Homo sapiens: one gene and its partners. The protein of the gene in region 4 interacts with the protein of the main gene of each other region in a pairwise test. Each region holds a gene or a part of one and is shown on either strand. Other genes may lie near its edges.

Region 1 (9,258 bases), on a different chromosome or scaffold from region 4:
GTCTTCTAACTGGAGAATTTGGTCCAATTATATTTATTGCAATTAATATATTTTGATTTATTTCTAGCATTTTATGTTATACTTCCTATATGTTCTTCTCTAATACTTTTTATTTTTCTGTCCTCCTTTAGATTGACTTATGTTTAATTTTGTTTTTTCTTTCTGCAAAACTTGACCTTATGCACTCTATTTTTATCTTTTTTGTGGTTGTATTAGTACTTTTTACATACATAATTAACCTAATAAAGTCTAAAGTATATAATTAATCAATATCATTATCCTTCTTTCCAACAACATAAGTAAGGACTTCATTTTATTTATTTAGCCAGGGTCTCACTATGTTGCTCAGGCTGGTCTCAAACTTGGGCTCAAGTGATTTTCCTGCCTCAGCCTCCTGAGTAGCTGGGACTACAGGTGCACACCACCAGGCCTGATTGAGTAAAGACTTCAGAGTGCTTTAATTCTAATTAAACTCTCCCAGCTTACACACCCCGTTGTCTGGTTTTTTAGTTGATCTTTTTTATCACCATTCTTTTATTTTTGTTAATGTTTGCTTAGATTTATTTATGTTGTTACTATATTCTTTGCTTATCATTCTTTCTCACATATCAGATCTTCCATAAACTATTATTTTGCTTCCTAAATTCATTCTCAAGAAGTTCCTTTGGTTACAGTCAGTGGTGGGAAGTTTTTCAATTTTTATTTTGAACAGTCTAGCTTGGACTACTTTACCATAGATCTTTAACTTGGAAATACTCAGGCTACACAATTAGTATAAATTCTATTCCTACATCCATTTGAAGTCTGGCCAAATCATGAATTCTTACAGAAAGTTTTTGTTGTAAGTTTACCAGCCTGAGTCAGGACTGAAAAAAGCAAGTATATCTATGTTTCTTGTGGAAGAGTAGGGGTGAGGAGTCGGAGTTGGGGCTGAGTTTCATTTTTTGTTAGCCCACATTTTCACTTTGCCCTGGACTACACTTTGTATGAAGTCCCTTGGCACTTGCAAGTCCTGTTAAAGTGAAAGCTCTAGGTCGCTTAAGTCCAGTGAGGCCTCTTGAAATGGATAGATACCACCAGGACAGCTACTGTTTTCAGCACTCACATATCCTTCTTGATTTTTTTGTCGGTATTACAAGAAAGACATCTTGATCCAGACCCCAAAAGAGGGTTCTTGGACCTCTTGCAAGAAAGAATTCAGAATGAATCCATAAAGTGAAATCAAGTTTATTAGGAAAGTAAAGGAATAAAGAATGGCTACTCTATAGGCACAGCAGCAGCATAGGCGGCTTGACTGAGTAAACTTACAGTTATTTCTTCATTATATGCCAAACAAGGGGTAGATTATTCATGAGTTTTCAGGGAAAGGGGCAGAGATTTCCTGGAACTGAGGGTCCCTCCCCTTTTTAAACTATATAGGTTAACTTCTGGATGTTGCTATAGCATTTGTAAACTGTCATAGCACTGGTGGTAGTGTCTTTTAGCATGCTAATACATTAAAATTTACATATAATGAGCAGTGAGGACCACCAGCGGTCACTTTCATGGCCATCTTGGTTTTGGTAGGTTTTGGCTGGCTTCTTTACAGTATCCTGTTTCATCAGCACAGTCTTTCTGACCTATACCTTGTGCCAACCGACCTCCTACATCATCGTATGACTAAGAAGGTCTCACCTCCTGGGAATTCAGCCCAGCAGGTCTCAGCCTTATTTTACCCGGCCCCTATTCAAGATGGAGTTGCTCTGGTCCAAATGCCTCTGACAGCTCTCTTTGTTTTTGGCTTCTAAGATTTTCTTTTACTTGCCTGCTGGCTCAATGGTGCATATAAAAATGCACTATAGCATTTTTAAAGGACTTAAAAAAATTCATCAAGCATTTGTGTCACACACAGTGGTTTTTAAGGATCCATTCTGCAAACTGCTAGAACCAATGCATTCCATTCTTAATAACTTATGTATGGCCACCAGGAGGGCTACTTTCTCCTCCATTCCTATAAGTGGCCAAACTGAGTGATCTTGGACCACCTCAGTAAGCCTCAGTTGTCTAAATTTACTTACTGTAAATAGTTGGGGACTCTTTAAGATCCCTTAAAAAAATTATCTCAAACTTGCACAAACTTCTGGGAGGAGATTTAGCATTCTTGATTTAAAAACAAACAAACAAACAACAACAACAAAAACCCTAAGTTTCTAATCAACTTTAATGAAATCAAGATATTGTAAGGGAGATGTGGGTAGTCCAAGCTACTTAAGAGGCTGAGGCTGAAGGATTGCTTGAGCCCAGAGTTAGAGACCAGCCTGGGCAACACAGTCAGACCCTCATCTAAACAAAAAAAAACGAACAACAGCAACAACAACAAAAAACAGAAAGAAAAGAGAAAAAGAAAAAAATATTTGTTCTGGGAAACCAGTTACCAATCCATACTGTCGACTATCAGCTGAAAGTCAGAGTCTAAAATTAACTCTAAGTAGGCATTTTTTTTTTCTTTTGTCATACATTTTAAGTAAATCCTTTTTTTTCCTTTAAAAGAGTCCTCACCGCCAGGCATGATTGCTAACACCTGTAATTCCAGCACTTTGGGAGACCGAGGTGTGTAGATCACTTGAGGCCAGGAGTTTGAGACCAGCCTGGCCAATATGGAGAAACCCCGAAAGTAAAAGTACACACACACACACACACACACACACACACACACGCAAGCAAAATTAGCTCGGTGTGGTGGTGCGTGCCTGTATTTCCAGTTGCTCAGGAGGCTGAGGCAGGAGAATCGCTTGAACCCAGGAGGCAGAGATCACACCACTGCACTCCAGCCTGGGCGACAGCACGAGACTCTGTAGGAAAAAAAAATTCCAGTTGAGATGCTTTCCAGGGCGCTAGTCAAGCCCCGCATGCTTATTTGTGGGAGTGAAAACACCAATATTTCGGGATTGTTGTGAGGACTAAATAGTGTCTGTAAGATGCACAGAGAAAGCGTAAATAGACGTCAATAGCACTTGTTAGGTCTACACACTCCATTTTTCCTCTATATTAATCGAATTATTTAAAGATTGGTTAGCTTTTTGGGGAAATGTCTCTCCATTGTATTCCACTTATTAGGATGAACTACCTTTTCTCCTTGCTTTTCAGCTTTCTCTGCTATGAAAAAGATGGAAAATTTTTTAGCACAAGGGGACTCTTCTCAAGCAGCAAATCATTTTGATATTAAAAACAGATAATTGCAAACCCAGTTTTATTTCAGTATGAATTCCGCAGTGGAGTGTGAATATGTGTGTGTATGTGTGTGTGTGTGTGTGTGTGTGTGTGTGTGTAATTACCTGTGATTCAAAAGAGGAAAGGGATCAGTATTAAAGGTACTTGTACACTGGAAGCAAAAAAAAAAGGAAGTTTAGTTCCTCTGAGCTCCTTGGCAATTATAGCTGCTAAAGGTAGCTTTTACAAAGAAACTGCCTTTGTGCCTAAAGTATTTATTTCCTTGTTTGTATTTACCCCTTTGAGGAGGAATCGCTGTGTCTTGAGTGAAAGGGGTACGCTGCTTGCTTGCATTAAACTGTGAGGGTCCAGGCGCATTACGGCTGATTTCAGTAGGTAGAGCAGACACACTTTAGTTTATTTTTCTCTTTCTCACTCCCCACCCTCAACCTCCGATGTACACACGTTTTAAGATTCCCTGAAGTCAGGAGGTGGGAGCGGAGAGTTTCAGTTCAGATCTTGACATGAGAGTACTTCGACCAAGGAAAAGAAAGGGAAGAAAGAGGGAAGCGGGGTGGAGAAAGCAGGAGCAAGGAAGGAAAGAAGGAAACGGGGAGGGAGAGTAAGAAAAAAGAAAACGAAGGAGGGAGGGAGAGAGGACATTTAAATGAAGAAGGAAGGAAGCTTGGATTCAGGGAGGAAAGGGAGCGGGAAAGAGAGCGAAAGAAGAGCGTGAGAAGAGGCAAGCATTATAGTCTCCGGTCCACAGGGGAGAGATGGAGCCCCCTCAGGACTAGAGAATCCCGAAGAGCCCGTGTATTGTTTTCTTGAAAGCCCCGAAGCTAAGCAATTCTAAAAATGTTTAGCAAAGCCCTTTTGGGAATGGTGAGATGGGGGGTGGGGAGGATGGGACATTTTCATTGCCACCGCCCGCCCCCCGTCTCCCCGGCCCCCTCACATGAAGTGACTGGATTTGGGAGACCTAGCGGAAACCTTCAGGTCACCCAGGGAACTGCTCCTCTCTCTGGTCCTGCAGCGGCGAGGCGGGGTAGGGGGTGGGGGGGGTGGGCCGTGAGAGCGCCGAGACGCGCGGGGCGCGGAGATGTGCAAGTGGCGAAGCTTGACCGAGAGCAGGCTGGAGCAGCCGCCCAACTCCTGGCGCGGGATCTGCTGAGGGGTCACGGTGAGTCTCTGTGGGTGCGGGTCGGAGGGATGCCCAGGTGCCTCGTCGCCCCACGGCCCGGGCGGAGGCGGGTCCGGAACCTCCCCCAAGTCCGGCCTCAGCCTGGAGCCCGCGCGCCTTGGGCGGATGCACGGACTGAGAGGCGCTTGGCTGGGCTCTCAGCCCGCCACTGCCACCCGGCCCCGTGCGCTCATTGGTCGGGATGTGTCGGCTCAGCAGCCTCCAACTTCTCCCGAATCCCACTGGTGAGTCCCAGGAGAGCGAGCTGAGGGAGAAAGGTCCAAAGGGCGCGAGCGCCCAGGGCGCTGGGAGCCCGTGGGACGGGCACGGGGAGGGCAGAGCCAGCCGAGGGGAGCGGCTGCCGGGAGGTGCGCTGAGCAGGGTCCGCAGCTAAGGTCCAGCGCGATCCGAGCGCCCAGGACCCTGCGGCCGTGGAGGAGGCGTGCCCTGGGAAGGAGCCGCTACTGGGACCTGAAGAGTGAGGGGAGGGAGAGGGGCCCAGAGGGTGACCTGGAGGAGGGCTCTGGAAGTCACGTCAGGTTGGCTCTTCAGGTTCATTTCCATAGTTCCCTGCGGCCTCTGCCTTGGGGAGTTATGTTTTGTTACCGAGATCCGCGCTACCAGATTGCACCGGGGCTGATTTGGGGGCTGGGAATTTGCCATTCTGCTGTACAGACACTGATTTTTTTTTCTTCTTTTTAAAAAGCAAGGTTTGTTTTCATTTTGGTTTCTGTCGGATTTTCTCATTTGTAACTCACTTTTCTATTTTTACTTTTCTTAACCGGAAGATCTTTTCATTATCCCACCTCTTCATCTTGCTTTTAACCTGATTTCCTATTATATAATTAATGCTTAAATCTCACAAGGGTTGGTCGGTGCGGGGCTGGTGTGTCCTTTTGTAGATGAAAGTTTAAGACCTCTTAACTGGTTTCAGTCTATTTGTCTGGTTTCAAAATAAGGGTAATTGCAACCAAATATCCCTCTTTAGCTTCTCGATCAAGTCGATTCCTCCCCCATATATGATTCAAATGGCAATTTTATTAAACTGAAAACTAGTACCTGACTTGCAGCGTCAGCATTTGGAAAGTGCTTGTCGGCAAATCGACTGTATGAAGGCGTGTAGCTTCATCCCCTGCCATTTTTGTGGGTTCTAGCACTTTAAAAAATTGTCTGGTAATTTCTTGGACTTAACCCTGTGTCTTTGGTTGTAGAGCAGCACTAACCAGGGGAGTAATATGGTTGGCACTTCGTGTCCAGAACTCCGTATTTCAGGCTGGGAAACACCTAATTAATGTCTGGGAAACAAGAAGATGATTTATCCTGAGTACCTCTGTCCTCAGCTTCTGCAGACACAGTTTAAATATGGAAACTGTTTCTCCTTCTTCCTGTGCCTCAGTTTCCATAGAACAAACTGTAATTGCATAGCACAGCTTCAGGAACCTGCAGATATAAGTTAATGTTATAATGTGCAGTGAAGATGAAAACTGCTTAGCTAAGTCTAAGTCTGTAAGTCAATGAGATTTCCTTTTTAACAAATCAGTTATCCAGGTTTCCTGCTTTGACTGTCTGATATAGTAATGCTTATGCTCAACTGGTATAAGAATTGCTGCTTTACATTGCTTTGAAATTAAGCTTACACTTAAAATAGTAATTTATTCTGTTGGTAATATTGTCGAGCTGAAGTTTGCAGGTTCTTGTTATCTTAGACCTCCTAATTCTCTATTCTCGTCTGTGGCAGTGTCCACTTTTCCGTTTAAACTTTTTATTTAACACATCTTCAGTTGAAGTGAAATATTTTAAGAATACAGGTATGTTTTTGCGTACCCTGCTTTATATGGGACTATAAGCCTCAACTTGGTATTTTTTTTTTTTTTGTATTCTTTTGTTTACTTGTCCCCCTTACTCTTCTCTATGGGATTGGGTGTGGTTAAGTTGGATATTCAGGTATTTGGGGTTTAGTCATATGTTCCACAGTGAGATTCCAGATACTGTCCCCTGATGTCTTAAAGAAAAATTGTGAACCTTCCAGAATTAACTGGAAATGAACGACAAAGTTAATTAGGAGATTAAACTTGCATCATTTCTGCTTTTGCTCAATGCTTTTGAAAAAAGGCTACTAAGAGCAAAAGACTTCCTTTAAGAATTTACAGGGCATTTACAAGAGGGGGAGATGGAGGAAGACTTTGCAGGTGATTCAAAGATTATATTGTTTTGATGCAGCTTCTGTCACTGTCTTCATTTCTCTGTAACTGTTTCTGCAAACTTGGGTGCTGACCCATTAAGAGCCCAGCTGCTTCAGTACCCAGTCTCAAGGGTAAGGAGGAGAAGCCAAGGGAAAGTAACTTACAGGGAGAAAGAAATGCTTATCCACTAGCTTTACTACACCACAAGGCATGGAGTTTCCACAGAGCACCTGTAATTTAACCCTGAGGCTGCCCTGGTTCACCCCTTCGCTTTACTTTACAGGGACACTGACTGTCATTTCTAAGGAAGAACTAAGAAAAAAAAAAGTCCTTTTATACCAGTAAAACATTTCTCTACATTGTCTTCTGACATATGCGGGGGGAACAATATTCAGGAAAGGGAAATACTTTAGCAAATGTGCTTAACATTCAGGTGTTCTTTAGGACAGTCATGAAACATGGGGAGACTGGGAGAATTATTATTGTTTACCTCTCTGTAAAGTGTCCAGAGTATTATTAAATTTGTTCCCCTCTTTCCTTTGCCCAACCAATACACTATTAAAATAGGACTACAATCAATGCAATTCCATATCATAACCCCAGGGGTGGTGAGACTAAGCCAGCATGCCTTACATAACCATTAAGTAAGACATTTTAACATTCAGGTACATTACATTCCACTTTTATTTAGCAGACACGGTTTTCATTGTGTAATAAAATATTTTTATTTGATAGTCTGTCCTTGCTTATAGCCTCATGTAATCAAGGGGACAGCATGTTTAAGACTTTGTATCCAGAACTTTAAGGTCTAGCTGTGGTTCGCTTATTAATAATTCACTGGGAAGGTTAATTTCTAGTTTTCTGCTGGGTCTCCCAGACCATACTTCAAATGTAGAATATGTTTCTTCTTTCTCCTATGCCTCAGTTTCCACAAAACACACCCTTAGAGAATTGTGTGTGTTCAACAAAGATCTTTAACTATAAGAGCATTTCTGAGCCGCCACTTCATCCTGGGACCAAATTCTAAGAGCAATTTGTATTGAGCTATAAACAGCTAATCTGCTAGTTTAAGATGTTCTTTTATACAGTCATGCAGAAAAATGGAAATTGTGTGTTCTAATCCTTGGAGACTGGCTGATAAAGTGTCACTAGGCCCCTGATGAAATTTAATATTTAGGCTTATATCCCCTTAATTTTCCCCCTAAATTTCTACAGTACGCTTTTACTGCATGATGATACAGCTTTATTTTGAACAGTGACCAAATGTGTTCTTTACAAAGAATATTGACGAGTTGTGTAGTCTTGAACACGTTGCCTGACTTCTCTGTGCCCCAGTTTCCTAATTCTTTATTCTATTCTGTGGCAGTGTCCACTTTTTGGTTTAAAGTTTTTAACACATCTCCAGTTGAGGTGAAAGATTTTAGGAATACAGGTATGTTTTTGCATACCCTGCTTTATACAGGACTACAAGTATCAACTTGGTAACTTTTTGTACTATTTTGTTTACTTATCCCCCTTACTCCCCTCTTAAATGGGATTGGGCGTGGTTAGGTTGGATATTCAGGTATCTTTTGGTACAGTGAGTGACCATTTTCAGAATGTTGTCTAACCAGTTAATAGATACTGGTATCAGTAGTAGTAGTAATTTTGAACTGTAAAAATAAAGGTTGTTTTTATGACTAAAATAAACTACTTCATGTGTTCATTCGTTTTGCTGTTTATCTATATTAATATTTCAAATTATTGCTTAGTCAAAACCTCAAGGTATTAGTCACTGGTTTTTGAGCTTATAAAGGAAGCCACTGGAGCAAGATATAAAATTAACCATTGATGTTAGTCCAGAGTTCAAAAGGGTGAGTTTAAAACTTTCTTAATGATGGTACAGCAATTATTTGCTTATAAACTGCTGAATTAATCCTACTTGAGTATTTAACCAAGTCTTACTGTCTAATTTTGCTGAGATTTTCAGTGATATACCAAAGCAAAACAAAACAAAACAACAGCAACAAAAAACAAAAGGTTGTGACTGAGACCTGTCAAATTCATTTGGCTCTATATACTTTGCATTCAGCAACAAAATTTTGACTTCTCAACAGCAAAAATGTATTTCTATTTTAAAATAACTGAGCCTTTTACTTTTATCCAGCCACATTAAGCATTTGGACATTTTCTTTTTTATTTATTTGTTTTTCATTATTAGTATTTTCATTTTTTGCAGATTTTAGGTGATGGGCAAGTCAGAAAGTCAGATGGATATAACTGATATCAACACTCCAAAGCCAAAGAAGAAACAGCGATGGACTCCACTGGAGATCAGCCTCTCGGTCCTTGTCCTGCTCCTCACCATCATAGCTGTGACAATGATCGCACTCTATGCAACCTACGATGGTGAGTTACTCCCACACCTGTGCATCCATAAGTGCAAAAGAGAAGGAAATCTTCCTCCATGCTTTTACCATCTATCCAACGAATGTGTTAAGGATAGAGGCACTTAAAGACTGACAAAGAGATTCATTTATAAAATGTAACATCAATATGTCAAAATAATTAACTTTGAAGTACGGTGCCTTTTATGTTTGAGCTAAGTTATTAATTGCAAGTATATTTAGTGCGCTCACGCTTACTTATGAGGAATCTAAAGTATGGTTTTATTTGATTAAAATATACACAATTTTATGGCCAGCTTTAGTAATAGTCATTAGT
Region 2 (8,836 bases), on a different chromosome or scaffold from region 4:
TGGAGCTCAACTTGGATGAAGATTCCATTATCAAGCCAGTGCACAGCTCCATCCTGGGCCAGGAGTTCTGTTTTGAGGTACTGGGTCTGGTGGGCTGGGGAGGGCCAAAGGACAGGGGTGATGGAAGGTGGGGGGCAGAGAGGTCTAGAGAAAGTGGCACAGGTGGGGACATCAAGGAAACAGAAACTTCTGGGACTGGAGGAAAGGGTAGGCCAGGGAGGAAGAGAAGGTAGCAGAGTCTCCTCCCCTCTGTAGCCCTTTCCCTCAACTCCACACTCCTTTCTAGGTAACAACTTCATCAGGAACAAAATGCTTTGCCTGTCGGTCTGCGGCCGAAAGAGACAAATGGATTGAGAATCTGCAGCGGGCAGTAAAGCCCAACAAGGTATTGGGGAATAAAGGGGACACAACCTGTGCAGGGCAAAGGTTGCACCAACACGGGAAGCTGGGGGCCTAGGGAGGAAAGTGAGTTAAAGGAGGAGAGGCTTGGGGAAGGAGAGGATTGAGGTACAGTGTATCTGGACAAGCAGGGGGAGACCCCCATTATTCTGAGTCCCCCATTTCTTTTCGCTTTCTGTACTGCTACCCTGCCTTACGATCTCTTTCCCTGCCATAGAAGTCATAGACTTACAGAGTTGATGGGGCTCTGGAAATTCTTTAGTCTAGCTTCCCTGCAGGCAGGAATGCTTCACTAATACCCCGCAGGACACATCAAATACACTTAGCCAAGTTTCTGTACCTTGGTTTCCTCTCTAAGACAGAGGGAACTGGTGGCAATGGGTTGGATTAAATGATCTCTAAGGTCCCTTTGGCACATAAATTCTATGAGTCTGTTCTTCCCAAAACTTCATGCTTCCAGTTCTGTCAGCTATTCTCTGTATCCCAGTTTCTAGCAAGCTTACAGTCCTAGTCACACTCCTCTGGGGGGAACTCTTGTGTCTTGATGTCCTTAAAGAACTCAACCCAAGATGCTGACATGATCTGACCTATGCAGAGTACAAACACCATGTTCCCTTTCAACACACTGCAATATCACCTGAGCCTTACCATTAGCTTGTGCTCAATTGTATCCCCCCAGGCCCTTACTGATTCTTTTTTTTTTTTTTTTGAGACAGAGTCTCACTCTGTCACCCAGGCTGGAGTGCAGTGGCGTGATCTTGGCTCACTGCAACCTCCGCCTCCTGGGTTTAAGCAATTCCTGTGCCTCAGCCTCCCCAGTAGCTGGGATTACAGGCATGCACCACCACACCCGACTAATTTTTGTATTTTTAGTAGAGACGAGGTTTCACCATGTTGGCCAGGCTAGTCTCAAACTCCTGACCTCAGGTTGTCTGCCTGCCTCAGCCTCCCAAAGTGCTAGGATTACAGGCATGAGCCACCACATCTGGCCAAGCTTTACCCATTCTATATGCAATTCTTTTTTCACAATTTCTGATAGTCTCTGCAGGACTTTCCAGTTCCCTTCAAATTCTACATTAATATTTTTGGCTTGTTATTCCAGCTTTTGAAATCTTTCCAATACTGTTTGTGTTGTCTAGTGTATGTCTACGCTTCTACAGTAGCTTCCTGGGGCTGCTATAACAAACTGCTACAAACTGGGTCACGTAAAACAACAGAAATTTATTCTCTCACAGTTCAGGAGGCTGGAAGTCCAAAAGCAAGGTATCAGCAGGGCCACGCTCTCTTTGATGCTGTAGCAGGGAATCCTTCCTTGCCTCTTCCTAGCTTCCGGAGGTTGCCAGCAGTCCTTGGCATTCCTGGGCTTATAACTGCATCCGTCTAATTTCTGCCTCCATCTTCATGTAGCTGGCTTCCTTCTGTGTGTCTCTGTATCCTGTATCTCTGTGTCTCCAAATCTCCCTCTCCATATAAAGACACCAGTTTTTATAAGGTGGGTTAAGGGTCCACTCTAATTCAGTATGGCCTCTTTTTTTTGAGATGGAATATCGCTCTTGTTTCCCAGGCTTGGAGTGCAATGGCATGAGCTCAGCTCACTGCAACCTCCGCCTTCCAGGTTCAAGTGATTCTCCTGCCTCAGCCTCCTGAGTAGCTGGGATTACAGGCACGTGCCACTATGCCCAGCTAATTTGTTTTTGTATTTTTATTAGAGACGGGGTTTCACTATGTTGGCCAGGCTGGCTCGAACTCCTGACCTCAGGCAATCCACCCACCTCGGCCTCCCAAAGTGCTGGGATTACAGGAATGAGATACCATGGCTGGCCTCTTCTTAGTTTGATTACATTTGCAGGGATCCTGTTTCCAAATAAGATCACATTCACAGGTTCAGGGTAGACATGAGTTTTGGTGGGATACTATTCAACCCAGTACACCGTCTCACCTTATGATTGCTGTCTGTATCCCACTTTCTTACTGTCTCTCCTCTTTTGGTGTCTCTCTGTCCCTTCCCCCTTTAACATCATGCCCACCCCACCATGCCAGGACAACAGCCGCCGGGTAGACAATGTGCTAAAGCTGTGGATCATAGAGGCCCGGGAGCTGCCCCCCAAGAAGCGGTACTACTGTGAGCTCTGCCTGGATGACATGCTGTATGCACGCACCACCTCCAAGCCCCGCTCTGCCTCTGGGGACACCGTCTTCTGGGGCGAGCACTTCGAGTTTAACAACCTGCCGGCTGTCCGTGCCCTGCGGCTGCATCTGTACCGTGACTCAGACAAAAAGCGCAAGAAGGACAAGGCAGGCTATGTCGGCCTGGTGACTGTGCCAGTGGCCACCCTGGCTGGGCGCCACTTCACAGAGCAGTGGTACCCTGTAACCCTGCCAACAGGCAGTGGGGGATCTGGGGGCATGGGTTCGGGAGGGGGAGGGGGCTCGGGGGGTGGCTCAGGGGGCAAGGGCAAAGGAGGTTGCCCGGCTGTGCGGCTGAAAGCACGTTACCAGACAATGAGCATCTTGCCCATGGAGCTATATAAAGAGTTTGCAGAGTATGTCACCAACCATTATCGGATGCTGTGTGCAGTCTTGGAGCCCGCCCTGAATGTCAAAGGCAAGGAGGAGGTTGCCAGTGCACTAGTTCACATCCTGCAGAGTACAGGCAAGGCCAAGGTGAGTGTTGTGCCCTCAGGGAAAGGTGACTTGGGAATGGGCACTTGCTTGGGGGTTAGTGAGGACAGGGCAAATTCACGAGATTGGGTTGTGCAGAGGCTGACACTTGGATTTTCCTGGGCCTCAGGACTTCCTTTCAGACATGGCCATGTCTGAGGTAGACCGGTTCATGGAACGGGAGCACCTCATATTCCGCGAGAACACGCTTGCCACTAAAGCCATAGAAGAGTATATGAGACTGATTGGTCAGAAATACCTCAAGGATGCCATTGGTATGGCCCACACTCAGGCCCTCTTCTTCCCAAACCTGCCAGATGTCCACCCCAGACCCCAAGTCCACCCTTCCACAGCTTGATACTTCCTAACCCAGAGTCCTAGGACTCCAGCCTCCAACACCTGATTCTGAAATTTCCCCAACCCTGGCCACCCCCTTCCCTGCCCTTGGAAAGTGTGACCACACCCTCTTGTGCCCCCACCCCCCAGGAGAATTCATCCGTGCTCTGTATGAATCTGAGGAAAACTGCGAGGTAGACCCTATCAAGTGCACAGCATCCAGTTTGGCAGAGCACCAGGCCAACCTGCGAATGTGCTGTGAGTTGGCCCTGTGCAAGGTGGTCAACTCCCACTGGTGAGACTGGGAACGCTGGGCTGGGGGGCCAGGGTCGGGGGAATTATGTGTTCATCTGTTCATCTATCTGTCCATCCTCAAAGAGGACTGAGCACCATTTATGGGCAAAGCATTGTTCTAGGCGCTATAGAGCAAACAGGTGAAAGAGGCCTGGTCCCTGCCCTCAGAGGGCCTCCACCAGAATGGGGACAAATTAGAAGAAAAAAAAAAAAAGCCACAGAGCCATAATGGTGTGTAAGTGCTGAGTAAGGGTCCCCCCAACCTCTGTGTGACATAAGGTCAGAGAGAAGGCAGAGCTTTGAGATAAGTGGGGAAGAGGTGCCCCCTTGGGTAGGCTTTGAAGACTGGTTTAGGTTCTGATATATGGACATAGTTGGCAAGAAAGACATTTCAGAAGAAGGCTGTGAGAAAGGCACATGTGTGATGGTGAAAAGGCCCAGGAGTTTTCAGGGGACATTAAAGTAGGTTAGTAGCAATTACATCAGGTTTAGTGGAGCATGTGCCTCATAATGGGGAGTGGCGGGAGAGATGTCTGGGCAGGAAGATTAGCTTTAGAAACTGGAAGGCCTCAAGGAGTCTGAGGTCATTGGTAGGCCTTGGGATGCCATTAAAGGTGTCAGAAATATTGTGATTTAGAAGATTAATCCATAGGCTGGGCACGGTGGCTCACACCTGTAATACCAGCACTTTGGGAGGCTGAGGCGGGCAGACCACCTGAGGTCAGGAGTTTGAGACCAGGCTGACCAACATGGAGAAACCCTGTCTCTACTAAAAATACAAAATTAGCCAGATGTGGTGGCACATGCCTGTAATCCCAGCTATTCGGGAGGCTAAGGCAGGAGAATCACTTGAATCTGGGAGGTGGAGGTTGTAGTGAGCCGAGATCACACGATTGCACTCTAGCCTGGGCAACAAGAGTGAAACTCCATCTCAAAAAAAAAAAATTAATCCATAAGTAGAGTGTATGTAGTAGAGTAGAGGGATGTATGTTGGGGGATGACTGGAATAGAGCCAGCTGGGGGCTCGGAGGCATGAAAGTCAGATCCTGAATCAGAACAGTGACAGAAGTTAGGAAGGAGCTACTGGAAGGACCCTCTCGGGAAAGGATCAGTAGGAATTGTCAGCTTATTGGAAAGGAGGGAGCATGTCTGTGGGGAGTCACGGATGACTCAAGAGGCCATGAGGCTGGTGGTTGGGAGACCGGTGGCCTCATTGACAACCAGGAAAGTCAGGAGGAGGAGCCAGTTGGAGGTGTGGGGGCGATGGTGAGCTCTGCTTTACACCAGCCGAGTTTAAGGTGTCAGTGGGACATTGAAGTGGAACTGGGAGGTGCGGGGAGTGAGCTCTGAGCCATTCCAGGGACTGGGGATCATGCCTGGGGCACCTCCATCCCCATTTCCCTGGAATCCAGAAGAGTTGGGGGGTCCGAGCTCCCTGTACCTCAAGTGACCCTCCATCTCTCTCCCATCTCTGTCTCTCCCTGGTGTCTGTTTTTCTTCTCCTCCTCTCCTTGTCTCTCTCCCACACCCCTCCATCTCTCTCCCACGTGTCTCTCCCCTCACCTTCTCTCCCCCTCCATTTCTCTCTCCCTAATCTGTCTGTTCCCTCTGCCATGGCCCCCTTCTTCAAGCAGCCTCCCATCTTGCTCCTGCGGTCCCTCCTTCCCTGTCTCTCTCACCCCTGTTTCCACACCCTCACCTCCTACCACCCCCCTCAGCATGTTCCCTGGAAGCTGAGGGTCTCTGGGGCTCAGTCCCGGTCTCTCTCTTTCTCTCTCTCTCTCTCTGTCTCCCCGACCCTTCCCCCCAGCGTGTTCCCGAGGGAGCTGAAGGAGGTGTTTGCTTCGTGGCGGCTGCGCTGCGCAGAGCGAGGCCGGGAGGACATCGCAGACAGGCTTATCAGCGCCTCACTCTTCCTGCGCTTCCTCTGCCCAGCGATTATGTCGCCCAGTCTCTTTGGGCTTATGCAGGAGTACCCAGATGAGCAGACCTCACGAACCCTCACCCTCATTGCCAAGGTCATCCAGAACCTGGCCAACTTTTCCAAGTGAGGGAAGCTTCAGGAGTGGGCAGGGCAGGGAGTGGCAGGGCAGGGAGTGGCAGGGCTGGGGGTCGGCAAGAAGGGTCTCCTGAGTCCCCAGAGATCCTGAGATGGGGAGGCTATGATACCTTGTGTGTGTGTGTATGTGTGTGTATGTGTGTGTGTGTGTGTGTGTGTGTGTATGTGACCTTTATCTTCTGCATTCTTGGCTAGGTTTACCTCAAAGGAGGACTTTCTGGGCTTCATGAATGAGTTTCTGGAGCTGGAATGGGGTTCCATGCAGCAGTTTTTGTATGAGATCTCCAATCTGGACACGCTAACCAACAGCAGTAGCTTTGAGGGTTACATCGACTTGGGCCGAGAGCTCTCCACACTGCATGCCCTACTCTGGGAGGTGCTGCCCCAGCTCAGCAAGGTCAGCAGATCCCCTCTTTGCCCTATCCCCAGATGGCTCCAGAGGTTCCTGGAGCCTGAGAAACTACCCTTTGAAGATTTTTTTTCTCCCCTTGTTTCTCGAGGTGTCACCACTACTATCCCAACTCAGGCCCCCTCCACCTGCACCCTCAGAGGCCCTCTTAGAGCTGGGCACTGAGCCCCCAGGTAACAGCCTCACCCTTCCAGGAAGCCCTCCTGAAGCTGGGTCCACTGCCCCGGCTCCTCAACGACATCAGCACAGCTCTGAGGAACCCCAACATCCAAAGGCAGCCAAGCCGCCAGAGTGAGCGGCCCCGGCCTCAGCCTGTGGTACTGCGGGGGCCATCGGCTGAGATGCAGGGCTACATGATGCGGGACCTCAACAGGTGAGCACCCTGGGACAGCCAGGCCTGTGCCCTAGGAGCCCTTCTCCTATTCTAGATACTCCTCACTGGGCCCCACATGCATCTCTCTAGGGCTTGAAAGAAGGGAGGAAAAAGCACCAAGTTCTCAGGGGAGACGATAAGGAGACAGGTACAGTCAGTGGTAGGCTGAGAGCCCTTTACAGCCTGAGGGAGTGAGAGATTTGGAGCTCTAGGAATAGGGCTGAGGCTCCACCAACTCACGGCTTAGTTGTAAGCCTAGAGCATCCCTGCTGCAAGCTCTGATTTGCTGTCCCTCTGCCTGCCCATGCTAGTCCCCAGGCTGAGGTTCAGCCAGCATGTCATGTCAGCCATGTGTCAAAATGTTCAAACATCTCAGTAATAGCTAGTGAATAAGCACTTCCCCCAGCCCCCGACCACAACCCCACAGACCTCCCCATGATCCAGCACTTAGAGCAGTGACAGCAGAAGCCTAGCAGGGCCTGCAGCCTGCTCCAGAGTCCCAGCCTCCATTCTGATAGGTGGTGCCCGTGCTTCATTTGCTGCTCATTATTTTGATGATGGCCCTGCTTTTTCCTCTGCCCGTGTCTTCCTCCATGACACCATACCCATCCCACCATTCCCGCCTCTCCTTTCATTTGTCCACATCTCTCTCCTTCTCTGTCTGTGCTCGCCCCTCTTTCCATCTCTCTCCAGCTCCATCGACCTTCAGTCCTTCATGGCTCGAGGCCTCAACAGGTGAGGGGCTCTCCCCTCCCCCGCCCTCCTCTCCTCTCCTGTCTGTTCCCTCTCCCACTCCACTGGCCTTCGCCCTACTCCTCTCCTCTCCTCCTCCATGGACCTCATCTCCTCCATATGTGCCCAGCCCTGCCCCCATCCCTTCTCTTGCTGCCCCCATCTCCCCTCCTCTAGGCCTCACCCCCTTCCCGGAGGGGCCCTGTCCTTTCCCTTTACTCACCTGTCCCCTCCCATCCTCCCTGCCTGCCCTCTTCAGGGCTGCCACCGCTAGCTCTCAGCCCTTCCCTCTGGGTCCCACTTTTCACCCCAAGGCCTGTGCCAGACCACAGCAAGGTTCAATTGCTAGGAGCCCTGACCTTACCTTCTGCTTGTGTGCCCCCTTCCCTTCTGACAGCTCTATGGACATGGCTCGCCTCCCCTCCCCAACCAAGGAAAAGCCACCCCCACCACCGCCTGGTGGTGGTAAAGACCTGTTCTATGTAAGCCGTCCACCCCTGGCCCGTTCCTCACCAGCATACTGCACGAGCAGCTCGGACATCACAGAGCCAGAGCAGAAGATGCTGAGTGTCAACAAGAGTGTGTCCATGCTGGACTTACAGGGTGATGGGCCTGGTGGCCGCCTCAACAGCAGCAGTGTTTCGAACCTGGCGGCCGTAGGGGACCTGCTGCACTCAAGCCAGGCCTCGCTGACAGCAGCCTTGGGGCTACGGCCTGCGCCTGCCGGACGCCTCTCCCAGGGGAGTGGCTCATCCATCACGGCGGCTGGCATGCGCCTCAGCCAGATGGGTGTCACCACAGACGGTGTCCCTGCCCAGCAACTGCGAATCCCCCTCTCCTTCCAGAACCCTCTCTTCCACATGGCTGCTGATGGGCCAGGTCCCCCAGGCGGCCATGGAGGGGGCGGTGGCCATGGCCCACCTTCCTCCCATCACCACCACCACCACCATCACCACCACCGAGGTGGAGAGCCCCCTGGGGACACCTTTGCCCCATTCCATGGCTATAGCAAGAGTGAGGACCTCTCTTCCGGGGTCCCCAAGCCCCCTGCTGCCTCCATCCTTCATAGCCACAGCTACAGTGATGAGTTTGGACCCTCTGGCACTGACTTCACCCGTCGGCAGCTTTCACTCCAGGACAACCTGCAGCACATGCTGTCCCCTCCCCAGATCACCATTGGTCCCCAGAGGCCAGCCCCCTCAGGGCCTGGAGGTGGGAGCGGTGGGGGCAGCGGTGGGGGTGGCGGGGGCCAGCCGCCTCCATTGCAGAGGGGCAAGTCTCAGCAGTTGACAGTCAGCGCAGCCCAGAAACCCCGGCCATCCAGCGGGAATCTATTGCAGTCCCCAGAGCCAAGTTATGGCCCCGCCCGTCCACGGCAACAGAGCCTCAGCAAGGAGGGCAGCATTGGGGGCAGCGGGGGCAGCGGTGGCGGAGGGGGTGGGGGGCTGAAGCCCTCCATCACCAAGCAGGTAGGTGAAGGCAGGAGGAAGGCGGGCTGGGTCACAACAGGGAGGGAAGAAGGAGATGGGGGGTGGGGTTGAAACAGAGTCTGTGGCCTGAAGTTACAATCTTC
Region 3 (4,748 bases), on a different chromosome or scaffold from region 4:
CCTCTGTCCCCACAGCCTATGGCGTTGGCCTCCTTGTGACATTCGTGGCACTGGCCCTGATGCAGCGTGGCCAGCCCGCTCTCCTCTACCTGGTGCCCTGCACGCTGGTGACGAGCTGCGCTGTGGCGCTCTGGCGCCGGGAGCTGGGCGTGTTCTGGACGGGCAGCGGCTTTGCGGTGAATACCAGTTTGCTCTGACTGTGAGAAATACTCGCCTAGTGAGCCCTAACTAGAGTTAAAGTTGAGTGAGACCTCCAGCCACAGCCAGCCCTGCGGCCGCGACGGGGCTCAGGGTCCTGGTACCTTCTGCTTTGGGTGTCATGCGCGTGAGGCCCCGGTGGAAGGACGTGCGTGCAGCTCCTGTGCCGGGTGGGATGCGGGGGTGCCAGGTGGGGCCCGGGGGTGCCGGGTGGGACGCGGGGGTGCCGGGTGGGGCCCAGGGGTGCCGGGTGGGACGCGGGGGTGCCGGCTGGGACTCGGGGGTGCCATGTCCTTTCTAAAGTTGCTTCTCCCAAATAGTAGTGCCCCACCTGCGTGGGCATCGGGCATCCATCGCCTCTCCTGCCGAGAGCGAGGCGCCTGACTGGGGGTGGGGCCGCAGGGCCCTGGACGAGGGGAGCAGGCCTGCCCTGGCTGTGGAAGCCCTGTCCCCTGTCCCCCTTGGCAAGGCAGGGGGTGGTTGGCAAGGGTTAAACGTGAGATGCAGGGAGGGCTTACGCCACGTCGGTTCTGCTCTTGTGATTTTTTGTGAACAGGAGTGGGTGGGACCCCCCCTTCCAGTGTGCCGCTCAGGTGACTTCCTGGGTTCCCGGGACTCAGGCGCATTGCGCCCGAGAGCTGCCCCCGCCCCTCCGGGCAGCGCCTCTTGGAGTCCATGACCGCCCAGGGAGCAGCCCTGCGCCATAGGGCGATCCTCAGGCTGTTGGGCATGGGTGCAGCTCCTCCCATAGCTGATCTCCCTCTGGGGGAGATGCCGCGCTTCTCAGCGGTGCTGGCCGCGCATGGGGTCCTACGTCATGTTTTTGTGGAGGTTAAACCACACCCGTCCCTGCCGCACTGGTGTGATGCATTGGGTCGAGCTGTGGTTCCAGTGCCGAGCTGGGCTCATGGGTCCCACAGATGGGACCATGGCCTGAGACCAGGCCCCAGGGAGAAGTCTCCTGGGGCCAGCACCCCCACCCCAAAGGTCTCCCCATTCTGATGGGCATTTCAGAAGGTTCAGGAGAAGCCGGGGACCAGGCCCAGGGGCGAGAGACGGTAGTCCAGGCTTTTCTTTGGAGAGGCTTTGCACAGCTCCCAGCCTCTGCTGGCCTCGGATGGCCCTCCCGCGGCACCTGTGCCGATGGACAGGGTCCTGGGTGCCCGTAGGTTATGGAGCCGGCCCCCTCCTTGGGTCCAGAGCCCCTGGGGATGGCGCCTCATTTTGACCCTGCCCCCGTGGCCTGCGGGTGCTGGGTGTCCTGGCCCCTGCCAGGGTCCTCCTCTGGGTCCCTGTCTCCGCCTCACCTCTGCCTCCCTTCTCCTGTAGAAAGTCCTACCTCCATCTCCGTGGGCCCCAGCACCAGCCGACGGCCCGCAGCCTCCCAAAGACTCTGCCACGCCACTCTCCCCGCAGCCGCCCAGCGAAGAACCAGCCACATCCCCCTGGCCTGCTGAGCAGTCCCCAAAATCACGCACGTCCGAGGAGATGGGGGCTGGAGCCCCCATGCGGGAGCCTGGGAGCCCAGCTGAATCCGAGGGCCGGGACCAGGCCCAGCCGTCCCCGGTAACCCAGCCTGGCGCCTCGGCCTAGGGGAGGGGTGAGACGCTCGCTGCCGTGCCCGCCACACCAAGATGTTGGGGCTGCCTGGCGCCCACTGGAGACAGACAGACAGACGCCTGTCCCCCGGGACCGAGGCCTGTGCCGTCCCCACCCGCCCCAACATGGTGCTCATCCTTGCCGAGACCCCTGCGGTCTGTGCCCGCGCCCAGCCCAGCTGCCCCGGCTGCACGCCTGCTGCTCCCAGCTCGCCCGGCTGCCACAAGCTCTCTGCGGGTCCATCCTCCCCACCGGGGTCCGTCCTCGCAGGCCCTGCCCGGCCTCTCTGCAGACCCTCAAGCGTCGTCTGCATGAGTGAGCAGGCGTGGGTGGACTCTGGCCGCGGCCACACTTGGTGCTCACCAGCTGCTTCGGCCTTCAGGTGACCTCCCTCCCCACGGCATCCTGCTCTCCGGGTGGAAGAGCAGCTTTCTGTCTCCCAGAAGGCATCGCTTTTCCCTCTTGAGCAGATCGGAGCCCCTGGGAGGTTTGGAAGCTGCCTCCAAGCCTAGGACACGGACCAGTGGCCGGGGCGGCCTCTGGCCCCTGACGCTGGCTGAGACAGGCCCGTGGGGCGGGGTTTTGGGGCGTGAACAAGGCTGGCAGTAAGTGGACAAGCTGCTCCCCTGGCTAAGGCCCTGCCCTGCCCTCAGCCAGAGGTGCCTGGCCATGCCTGCACACTCCTCCCCATTTTAATAAATGGTCGCAACTTCTAGAAGTCCTGCTGGTGCCACCTGGTGGGGTGGACGTCTCTCAGACTGCCCTTCTGACAAGCAGGGGTGGGCGCCAGGCAGGCTGGGTCAGGCCCTCAGGGGTCCCTGGAGCCCTGGGAGGGAGGGACTGGGTCGTGGGAGGTCCTGGTAGCTCCCGGCACCCAACCTCGCTTCCCGTGTGGGCCCCGTGTTGCTTTTCTGCTGAGAGGGGCTTGGGCCTCGGTTCTCCCTGTGGCAGCGGCATTGGTGCCTGGGTTCTTAACCCTCTGGACCCAGCAGCTAGGAGCTTCTGGAACCCACGAGGACATCTGCCACTGGCATGGTCTACTCACTGATGGGGTCCTCCTGACTCCAGGGCAGAGACGTCCGTGCGGGAACTGACCGAGGCGTGGCCCCAGGCCCCGGCATCCTCCCCTCGCTGCACGTGGTCACTTCCGAAGCAGCGCTCCCTGTGGCCGCAGAGACAGAGCCCGCACCCTGGCTGTCTGTGGTGCCTGGGCCCCAGCTCCCGCCCGCCACCCGCCCTGTTGAGTGCGGCCTCCAGACTCGAGTCCAGAATCTGTTTCTGTCAAGTCAGTCGTCCCCAGCTGCACACGGGGACTGCTGAGCGCTGCGCTCTCACGGGTCTGTTCCGGACAGAGGGTGGCAGGGGTGAGCCCTGATCCCTTACAAAAAATACCAGCTTCCCAGGGAGTAATGGCGCCTTCACTGAAGCCATTTTGTACATGGGGACGGGGTGGGGACGTCTCTTTTTTGGTGTTGGACGTTTGACCAGTGGGGAGGGGTTCAGAGGCGGCGGTCCTGTCCTTGGCTCCGTCTGTCCGTGTGGCCTTGCTGCCATTCCGTCTGATCATTAAACACAGCTTTTGATACATATGGCCCGGCCTCTGCCTCCGCAGTGCACGGCTTGGGGCATCTGCTCTGTGCAGGTCCCGGTGAGCAGAACTGAGAGCTGGCAGGCCGCCTGGCTGTCCTGCAGAGGACGGATTGGAATTGCCACCGCAGGGCCGGCCAGTGCTGTGAGGTGCCCAGCGTCACTCCCATGGGCTCTGTGGGCCATGTGGTCCCTGTCACGCTTCTCAGCTCTGCCACTGTTGCTGGAAAGCATCACAGACCATGTGTAAAATGGGCCAAAATACCTTTTACAAAATTAAAATAGAGATGGGGTCTTGCAGTGTTGCTGAGGCTGATCTCGAACTGCTGAGCTCAGACAATCCTCCTGTCTCGGCCTCCCAAAGCGCTGCAATTACAGGCACGAGCCACCACGCCCATCCCTCAAGTAATTTTCTCGCCAGACCCTGAAATTGGAATTGTATAGCATCCTCACGTCTCAAAAGAGTTTATTATTATTTTTTTCTCTTTAAAAATGCAAAGACCTGTCTTAGCCGCTTTGGGACAAGGTTTGGTTTCCAGCTGCTGCTGGCTGGCGCTGGGCCTGTGGGCACGTGGGTGATGGATGCGGGTTTGTGTGCGGGCCGAGAGGCCAGTGAGTCCTGAGCATCTGCCAGGCATCAGGGGCTGCTGTGTGTGTTGTTCTAGTCTCACAAAGTTCTCCGCTACGTTAGAGAAAGTGAGACCCAGGCTGGGCATGGTGGCTCACGCCTGTAACCCCAGTGCTTTGGGAGGCTGAGGTGGGAGGATTGCTTGAGCCTGGGAGTTTAAGACCAGCCTGGGCAACGTAGCAAGACCCCATTTCTACACAAATTACCTGGGTGTGGTGGCACACACCTGTAGTCCCAGCTGTTCAGGAGGCTGGGGTGGGAGAATTACTTGAGCCCAGGAGGTCAAGGCTGCAGTGAACTGTGATCGCACCACTGCACTCCAGCCTGGGTAACAGAGCGAGACCTTGTCTCCAAAAAAAAAAAAGGCCACCAGCAAGCCTCTGAGGCCACATGGCTGTGAGGGATCAGAGACATGGATTCCTCCAGGCCCTGAGCCAAACCACGACTGCCTGGCAGCGTGACGCCCTTGGCCTTAATGTGGAACAGGGTGAGGACGCAGCGGGAGATGGAGGCTCAGGCCTTACCACTCACAGCAAACCTGAATTCAAACCCACTGGGGAAGGGACGGCTTAATCACGGAAAGCGAATTCCAGAATACTTGAAGTCACACTTAGGTTTCGGTTTTTTAACTTGAGCAGTTCCTCGATACGCTCCAGAAGGAGCACCCCCAATTGCCTTTCCACGGGGGAGCTCACTGCTCGGAGGCCACTCGGCGCTGGCTCTGAACACCTCCCCT
Region 4 (8,836 bases):
TAGAATTGGATTATTTGCTATTAAATATTAAAAGTAGATTCTACCTGTGGTTACCTGGAAAGAAGAGGATCTCAGAAATAACCAGAAAGACTGCTAAAAGTAAATCAGCCTTGTTTTTGTTTTGTTGTTTCTAGTTAGTAAAATGAGATAATTCTGTTTTAGAGATGGTCCACTGCAACACTGGGAACGTTGGAACTTTTCAGAAAGCATTTTTGTGTAAGATTCTGCAAGGCAGATCTTTAGAGAGGTGTCATAATCAGTTTTGCATGTGTTTTGTTTGAGTCAACCAACGTTATTTGTGATCTCTATTTTTCACAAACTCTCTTTGGTATGTGCACTAATTTATCTTTTCATTAAAATTGGATTCTTCACTCACTAAGAATGAATTGGTATGACTATTCAGTCAGCTATAGTTAACACACAGTACTTAGGATAATTAAGATATTATCTTAATAAAAACATCCCCAAATCTCATTTTTCATTTTGTTAACTCACTTAGATCTTTATTAAAGTCAACATTAATTCATGAAAATGTAAGTGTTGCAGTTTAAAATCAAACTGTGTGAAGACTCCAAGTAGCTTCTCTCACCTCACCTTTCCCCTTTTCGTTATAGAAGAACAGAAATAATTGACAGAAGGACCTAGACCAAGAATCCTGATTTAATGGTGTCAGATCTGTTCTATGACCAGTCAAAGAGTTTCTAGGGGTGAATGAGGCAGCCACACACAGCAAGAATGTCAAAGCTATGCTCTGATTACAAGAGCCACAAGAATTTTTTGTGAGAAGGCTTTTCACTGAGTTCTTATCTAGCATTGGCTCAAAGCAAATTTTTGCTTCCATCTTTTCCCCCAACTTTGCCTTGAGCTTTGCCTTTAAAGGCGAAAAGGAAAAAATGGAAGATGAGATGGTGAGGGCAAGCACATGGTGGATGTGGCCAATGTAAGGGTACTTAGGTACCTTGGGTGAGCCCTCAGAATCAGATGTAGTTCACATGTACATTTCCAGAATTAGTAATTCTTAAGTTTGTAATGTCTTGCTTTACCACTCGTGTCATGATGCAAATGAAAGCAGTCATTTTCCAGTAATGTATATGATTGTAAAATAAATAAGGAAATGATCAAGTACCTATTTTTTACTGGTACTTGAAATCCCAAGTTTTAATAGATGTTACTGAAAAATACTTAAATTGGTTTAAAGCTTTTTCATTGTGGTTTTGAGTTATCTTAAAGTGGGTTTTCTTAATCTTTTACTCTGTGACTAATCCCTTCACTTTTTAATACATTGCTAAAGTTTGTAAGTAATGCACAGGAGTGATACTCTGTTAACACATTGACCTTGAAGAATTTGTATTCCTTTTGGATGTATGTATAGCTGCTTAAGCCACTTTCAGACTTAGATTATCTTTTATAAATGTGCCTTCCATACAGAATTCTGAAAATATTTACCATGGACAAAGAAGCAGATTTAAATCAGGTACAGACAAGAATTGAAAGTGTTGAATAAGTGAATATATTTCCCATTCTCTCTACTTTTTTCTTAATTCTTATAGAACTTTGCAGAAAGAATGATACATACCACAGTACCAGCAAGTTTAAAGCGTACCCTTTTGTGCAAAAATAAGAGGTTATCTTTGAACTGCCTTAAAAATCCAAAATTACCCTATCAGTTTGCAAGTATTAATCAACTCTGGTACCTGACCAAAGGAGTTTAAACAATGATGTCCTAATTAAACAGAAAACCAGATTAACCATCTTGTTGAAAAGAGTCTCTACTTTGGTTTTGAAATCTTACAATTCAATACATACACATACACATAAAAATATCTATCTATATGAATGTAATAGTTTACAGTAGGGCTGTGCTTACTGCTTTGAGGTATGTGTTTTTAAAACCAAACTTGATTTATTTATTTCTTAGGCAAAGTAATAGGAAAAAATGGAAAGCTGATTCAGGAGATTGTGGACAAGTCAGGAGTTGTGAGGGTGAGGATTGAGGCTGAAAATGAGAAAAATGTTCCACAAGAAGAGGTATGTTACAGTGCGAATATTTTGTGGCACATATAATAAAAGTAAAAGTTTTTTATGTGATATGTTGAGGACCTCTAATATGTGCATAAAGTGAATGCAAATATTCTGATTATCAAGCATGCCTGCTGTAATTAATGTTATAATTGTAGATAATGGCCCTTCTCTGTCCTCTAATGCAGTGAGTTTGGATTAGTCACTTTATTGAATTCTTTTTTCCTGATCTTTAAAATGGGTAGTTATAAATTTTTAAATATGAGACATACATCACTGGGTCGAGTGTTAATGGCAATTTAATAAAATAATATATATGTAAATGCTTCGTAAAGCACTTTGTAAATGTTAATGTTGCTGACAAAAGCAAAATTGGAACACAGGTTTTCTGGCTTTCATCTTTTCACTTTTTTAGTGTGGGGATTGTGTAGTATGTGTGTTTATTCTGTGTGCTTTAAATTTATTTCTGTGCTTAATATCTCTTCCCCATCCTCCTTACCTTTAAATTCTGTAACCCTTTTATCTTCATAAATATATGCTTTTTGTAGCAGCTTTTAAAGTATTTGCATGGGGTAGAGAGGTGAGGATGCACCTTTCTGTGCAATAGTACTCTTAAGATACTGTCTCATCAAAGAGCCGTAATTTTCACATATTGTCTAGCTTTCTTTTTGAAAGATTCTTTTAGCTAAAGTTAAATCTTTTTTTTCTGCGTACAATTTGTATTCGGTAATTTTATAAACCAAAACTGTTTATAATAACTTACATTTTTTAAAAATATGATGATTGATAACACTAATAGAGCTAAATAAAGTCTTAAATTGGTCCTTTTTTTCTCTTTTGTGTTTTCTGTTTTTTACCAAGGAAATTATGCCACCAAATTCCCTTCCTTCCAATAATTCAAGGGTTGGACCTAATGCCCCAGAAGAAAAAAAACATTTAGATATAAAGGAAAACAGCACCCATTTTTCTCAACCTAACAGTACAAAAGTCCAGAGGGTAAGAATTACTTGTCACTTTGAATTACAATACAAGTAATTTGTCTCAGATGTCACAATTGGTATTTTGGATGTTTTCTCTGGTTAGACTTGTAGGCTACTTATGTTCTATTTTTTTTCCAAATGTAATTGCCAGCTTATGAGATACTACAAATTAGTGTGATACATACTTTTCAATTTATTCACAGTAACAACTCTTATGCCATAAACACAAAATAATGGGGTTGCATTTAGTGGTCACATTTTTCTTTTGACAGTGGACTCTCTTTTTTCCATGCCTTCTCTCTTTAAATTTTGCAGGTATCGTAGCTCAAAATACACCTTCTGTTAGTTGCATTAGTTACTACTTGAACCATATTTTAGAAACTAATTTTCTCTGTTTGAACTAATCTGTTTAGAAATGGGTTTAAAAGTCCTGCAGTGAAAGTCCTGCGTTCAGGCTTCTGTGTATCGTTTGTTATAGTTAATGACATCCCTTGCATTCCTTATACTGCTTTAGGTGTTAGTGGCTTCATCAGTTGTAGCAGGGGAATCCCAGAAACCTGAACTCAAGGCTTGGCAGGTAGGAAAACATTCCTTGAGAAATACACTTTCAGTTTATATTTTAATGTTTATTCCCCTTGTTAACAAAGATTACAAATGATCCTCAGGATTAGGGACTGGAGGGAGGAGTGTTTGTGGGTATGTGGATCCATTGCCCTGGAGTTAAAGCTTAAACACCTTCATGCCGCTTGTAAGGCTTTTCCTAATTACTTGTCTAGTTATCATCTTTAAATTATCTTCTCCCTTGCACTCTAGAGAACCTTAAGCCATACTGAAGTACTTTGAGTTCTCTGAACATTCTCGTGCTTATTTTGCTTCTAGACATATGTACAGGTTTACTCTGCCTGGAATGCTTTTTCTCCTCCACATGTCACCTCATTTTGACCTTATTCCTTACAAAGCTTTCCTTGTGTACTTGCCGAAGATCCCCACCCCCTTGACTGGTTCAAGAGCCTTCCCCTTCTGTTTTGCAATGTGCTCACCCCTAGCATAGCACTTAAACATAGATGTTTATTTGTTGATCTCCTCAACCACATTGTAAGTTCTTTGAGGGCAGGGAGAGCTGGTGAGAACTGTTTATGGAAAAAAATGTTGTGGACTCATGGATTAAAAGCAAAGGTGCCATTTTACAAAGAGGACTATAACGGCAAGTGGATTGGATATGTCTCATTGCCGGGCAGCCCATTATTCCAGAACACAGAGTAACTTTTTTCTGGGGTCCGTACTAAAGGCCATCATTCCATTCTTGCCTTTCTTCATTTTAATTTACTATTCAGGTCTACTCGTGAAGTGCTTAAATTAGAGTGGCCCTTGGGGTACTCCAGCAGTTTAGACATGTTGCAAGAAAAGATATTCGTAAATAATTTGCTCCGAAGTCAATCTAACTAAATCTGTTACATAGGATTTTAAAGCTATTTTGGTGATATTTGACCCAGAGGGAAGGGTGTAGCATTCATTCCATCACATGGTATTTTGGGAAATAATACAGTTAAAGGCTTTTGTAACAAATAAAGCTTGTTGGAGAAAAACCCAACATGCAGAAATGAATTGCCAGTTATTAATTTGCACAATTGTTTCTAGGTTTCCCTATAACTTGTGACAAGAAGTAGTTGTTTTTTTTTTCCCTCTTAATATATATATATATGGGCTAGGAGTACAGACATTTAGCATATGCCTTTTAAAAATCTGTTCTTATGTTAAGTAGTGTCCATAGAGAGAAGTTCAAACTTTCCTTGTGATTCAGCCTTTTAAAATTTTCAGAGTACATTATTGAAATGTGTATGGGCTTGATAAAACTTAATGCTTGTCAATGTACCTATTTTTTTGTCTCACAGATTATTCAGTGCATTTTTATCCTGATGTTTTTGTTTGTATTTTGTGTGTACTCTATTTACTTGGTTAGCAGAAATGATTTACTTTTTACTTTTGTACCCTTGGTATTTCATTTTGATTTTTTTTTTAAGAATTTGATCGGCCAGGCGCGATGGCTCATGCCTGTAGTCCCGACACTTTGGGAGGCCAAGGCAGGCAGATCGCCTGAGCCCAGGAATTCGAGACCAGCCTGGGCAATGTGGCGAAACCCCGTCTCTACAGAAAGTACAAAAATTTAGCTGGGTATGATGGCATGCACGTGTTGTCCCAGCTATCCAGGAGGCTGAGGTGGGAGGAACACCTAGGGCCTGGGGAGGTCGAGGCTACAGCGAGCCATTATCATGCCACTGCACTCCAGCCTGGATAACAGAATAAAAAGACCCTGTCTCAAAAAAAAAAAAAAAAAAAGAGGCGGAGGCGGGCGGATCACGAGGTCAGGAGATCGAGACCATCCCAGCTAAAACAGTGAAACCCTGTCTCTACTAAAAAAACAAAACATTAGCCGGGCGTAGTGGCGGGTGCCTGTAGTCCCAGCTACTTGGGAGGCTGAGGCAGGAGAATGGCGTGAACCCGGGAGGTGGAGCTTGCAGTGAGCCGAGATCCCGCCACTGCACTCCAGCCTGGGCGACAGAGCGAGACTCCGTCTCAAAAAAAAAAAAAAAAAAACAAAAAAGAAAAAAAAAAAAGAAAAAATTTTGATCAGGATAAAGCCTTTCATAAATGAATTAGAGCATCTTATACTACTCATTTTGTTTATACATCTCATGGTAAAGCTTGTATAATTTTGAATTATACATTTTGTGATTTTGCTGATACTGAATACTAGTCTTTATAATAATCTGATACGTTTAAAAGGTTGCTATTGATCTATTCGTATTCACAGTAGATGTGTAAAGTAGTATATCAACTACTTTTGTTTTCATATATTGATTTATATTTACAGCAAACATTTGTATACCTGCTGTTCACCAGATCCTGTGCTAGGGAATTAGTCGTTATTTGCATTTTTCAGATTAATCTATCATTACTTTTATAGGATCATTGTTGCAATTTCTTTTTCAGGGTATGGTACCATTTGTTTTTGTGGGAACAAAGGACAGCATCGCTAATGCCACTGTTCTTTTGGATTATCACCTGAACTATTTAAAGGTGAGAACAGAAAGAACTTTAACTTCTAATCCTTTTGTACTAAAATATACAAACTTTATAGTAGATCTTTCAGCAGTTAGGACTCATTCTAGCCTGTGCAAAACACTGTATGACTTGTCAAAGGTAATAGAGAAAATACGTTGTTTGGCTTATAATTTTTTTAAAAATGGAAGTCTTTATAAATTTAAGTACCAATATACCAGTTTTCAATAAAATTTTATACTTCCCTTTATTCTTCTCTTAAACCCTTACACTCAGTTTAGGCAATCCTGTACATAGCCTGTTAATCCATTTGATCCTTTCTAGCATTTTGGTTTTTTCCAGACAAAAATCTGTGTCTATAACTCTTGCCTTTATTGTTCCTTTTATGTCATTTATCAAGGAAATCTAAGCATTTCATGAAGTTCTTTGTTTAAATGTTTACCCTATTTTTCTCTTTACTGTTATTCAAAATACAAACTATTTGTGTCTTCTCATAAATGTTCAGTTTAGTTAGTGTGATGCGGTTATGCCTCCTTAAAATTTCAAACTGGAAGATAGGAACGAGGAGGCTACAAGGTGTAGTGGAGCAAGCACTGGATGGGCAATGCAGCAATTTACTTATAAGACTTCAGCAAATGAACTAGCTGTGTGACTTTAGGCAAGTCACTTCCCTACACTAGATGCTTCTTGAAATTCCTTTTGGCCAAAATGTTCTATACTTTAATGAAATGGAAACTGATCTACTTCATTTTCATAATGTTTTATTTGTATCCATACATATCAAAATTATAATGTAGCTGGTATTAAATGTTTTTAAAAAGCATTTCAACTCTATTTATGGCATTAAGAATTTTTTTGCTGATTTCTTGAAAGAAATAAAAAGTACATGATTTCTGCTTGTGTGTAAATAAGAATGAAAGGAAGAAAAAGTGTAATACTGGGCATGCCATTCATTCTTATGGTGGCCAGTTAATTAAAAGTGGAAAGGTTTCATCCAGCAAGGTTTACATGGGTAGGATACCTCTTTGATTTTTTTTTAAGTATGTTTATGTGTAATCTCTCTGTGTGTGTGTCTCTCTCGTAATTAGCTTAAATCATCATGAAGGCCTGGAGAGTTAGGATTGCATTGTATCAAATCCCTTGTTCTTTTGACTAATGTTCTTTCTTAGATCCTTTGATTTATTCTCAAGAATATCTTCTTTGGTTATCAGCAGCTGCCCTGTTGCCATTCTTTCCATCACCAGAACTTCCCTCGTTTGGGCCTGGCATCTCTCACCAAAAGGTGACTGCTTTGCCCCAGTGGGATAACCTGGACTACTCTTCTGTTTTGCAAGATATTCCTATTCCATGAGCTATTACTATACCTTTGGAGGAAGTCACTCACTCAGCTGCAGTCTCTCCTTTGCTCAAATTCTATGTAAAACAGATTCTGGTGTAACTATGTAAATTGCTAATGATGGCAGAGCACAGATGAAACGGACCAAATCCTTACCTGACCTTTCTTTTCCAGAAGCTGCCACAACCAAGATTTTAGAAACTTAGCTTTACAGGAGCTTCTCCAATGACTGTTCATGTAGACAGTCTCTATGATAACCTCTGCTTCACTGAGACGCCTACTACTACTATAGTTATGAATCTGATTCCCCGTAGCCAGTAAATGAGATGTTTATGAGTGGATTGGAAGGACAGTGGTTAGAAATGAGGTTTCATCTGGTTTTAACAGAACCCAACATACTGGAAGTGCTTTTTGTAAGGGTCTGTCATTGGACCCCAGGTGTATATTTCTATCAACTAAATGTATACTGTTTCTCGTACTTGTTGTAGCAGAGTTGTAGTCTTTAGGAAGTTTTCAAGGCATGATGTAAGACCTAGCTGTCTGGTCAGCTATTAAATAGTTTTGTTTTCCCCTCATGAGGAATAGTCAGCATTTTCAGTTGATGAAAAAATCATTGTTCCTTAACCATAGTATATGTTCTTTTAAAACAAAAGATGGCCCAAACTCAATGCTTTGTAAATTAAGATATTAACTGGCAAATCTATTTTAATCAAGATTATTTACAATGTGTGATTTTTAAGGTTAGCTGGTTATACCTTGAATGTCATTTATCTATATTCATACATTTTAGCATGTTTTATTTAATATCCTATCATGAAGAAGTCCCCAAAATAGCATATCTGTGCCTTAGCAGTAGAATAATTGGATAATAGTGCCAAATTAGACAACTTTAAATTTTATTCAGTATAATTTTACTGCTGAGTGTTTTTGTTATATCTCTAATTCTTGACATCAATAATCTGTTATCTGTAGTAATTTTCTTTTTAAGGAGATCATTCAATTTCCTGATAATTCTGTGTAACAGTGTTTACTGTAAATTTAGAACTGAAATTGAAATATTCCAGTATATTTTTATCTGATGAAAAGGAGAAAGGTTTTATTAAGTAAAATGTCAAATTATTTTTACTGTTATCTTGTATATTTTAAATAGGAAGTAGACCAGTTGCGTTTGGAGAGATTACAAATTGATGAGCAGTTGCGACAGATTGGAGCTAGTTCTAGACCACCACCAAATCGTACAGATAAGGAAAAAAGCTATGTGACTGATGATGGTCAAGGAATGGGTCGAGGTAGTAGACCTTACAGAAATAGGGGGCACGGCAGACGCGGTCCTGGATATACTTCAGGTACAAACTAAGCATTTTACTCAGTAACTTTATCTGTTCCTAGACTTATAGCTGCTAATCTCTAATATTCATTAGAACCCCATTATAACAATTTG

The links.
Region 1: the proteins of FMR1 (region 4) and MME interact in binary tests that used the Homo sapiens proteins (3 or more experiments, as listed by UniProt).
Region 2: the proteins of FMR1 (region 4) and SYNGAP1 interact in binary tests that used the Homo sapiens proteins (3 or more experiments, as listed by UniProt).
Region 3: the proteins of FMR1 (region 4) and SPPL2B interact in binary tests that used the Homo sapiens proteins (3 or more experiments, as listed by UniProt).

Annotation. Positions count from the first base shown.
Region 1 is NC_000003.12:155,075,385-155,084,642, forward strand, and holds the start of MME (neprilysin), read left to right. Parts: upstream 1-4,934; 5' UTR 4,935-5,082; exon of another isoform or gene 5,083-8,658; intron 8,659-8,773; 5' UTR 8,774-8,783; coding exon 8,784-8,943; intron 8,944-9,258. UniProt on the Homo sapiens protein: Thermolysin-like specificity, but is almost confined on acting on polypeptides of up to 30 amino acids. Biologically important in the destruction of opioid peptides such as Met- and Leu-enkephalins by cleavage of a Gly-Phe bond.
Region 2 is NC_000006.12:33,435,229-33,444,064, forward strand, and holds part of SYNGAP1 (ras/Rap GTPase-activating protein SynGAP), read left to right. Parts: coding exon 1-77; intron 78-286; coding exon 287-385; intron 386-2,134; exon of another isoform or gene 2,135-2,253; intron 2,254-2,439; coding exon 2,440-3,063; intron 3,064-3,102; exon of another isoform or gene 3,103-3,190; coding exon 3,191-3,335; intron 3,336-3,546; coding exon 3,547-3,691; intron 3,692-5,500; coding exon 5,501-5,737; intron 5,738-5,944; coding exon 5,945-6,146; intron 6,147-6,352; coding exon 6,353-6,531; intron 6,532-7,224; coding exon 7,225-7,266; intron 7,267-7,660; coding exon 7,661-8,732; intron 8,733-8,836. UniProt on the Homo sapiens protein: Major constituent of the PSD essential for postsynaptic signaling. Inhibitory regulator of the Ras-cAMP pathway.
Region 3 is NC_000019.10:2,351,419-2,356,166, forward strand, and holds the end of SPPL2B (signal peptide peptidase-like 2B isoform 2 precursor), read left to right. Parts: intron 1-15; coding exon 16-176; coding exon of another isoform or gene 177-197; exon of another isoform or gene 198-239; intron 240-1,527; coding exon 1,528-1,791; 3' UTR 1,792-3,677; downstream 3,678-4,748. UniProt on the Homo sapiens protein: Intramembrane-cleaving aspartic protease (I-CLiP) that cleaves type II membrane signal peptides in the hydrophobic plane of the membrane. Functions in ITM2B and TNF processing.
Region 4 is NC_000023.11:147,934,586-147,943,421, forward strand, and holds part of FMR1 (fragile X messenger ribonucleoprotein 1), read left to right. Parts: intron 1-1,918; coding exon 1,919-2,028; intron 2,029-2,880; coding exon 2,881-3,015; intron 3,016-3,513; coding exon 3,514-3,576; intron 3,577-5,990; coding exon 5,991-6,077; intron 6,078-8,545; coding exon 8,546-8,741; intron 8,742-8,836.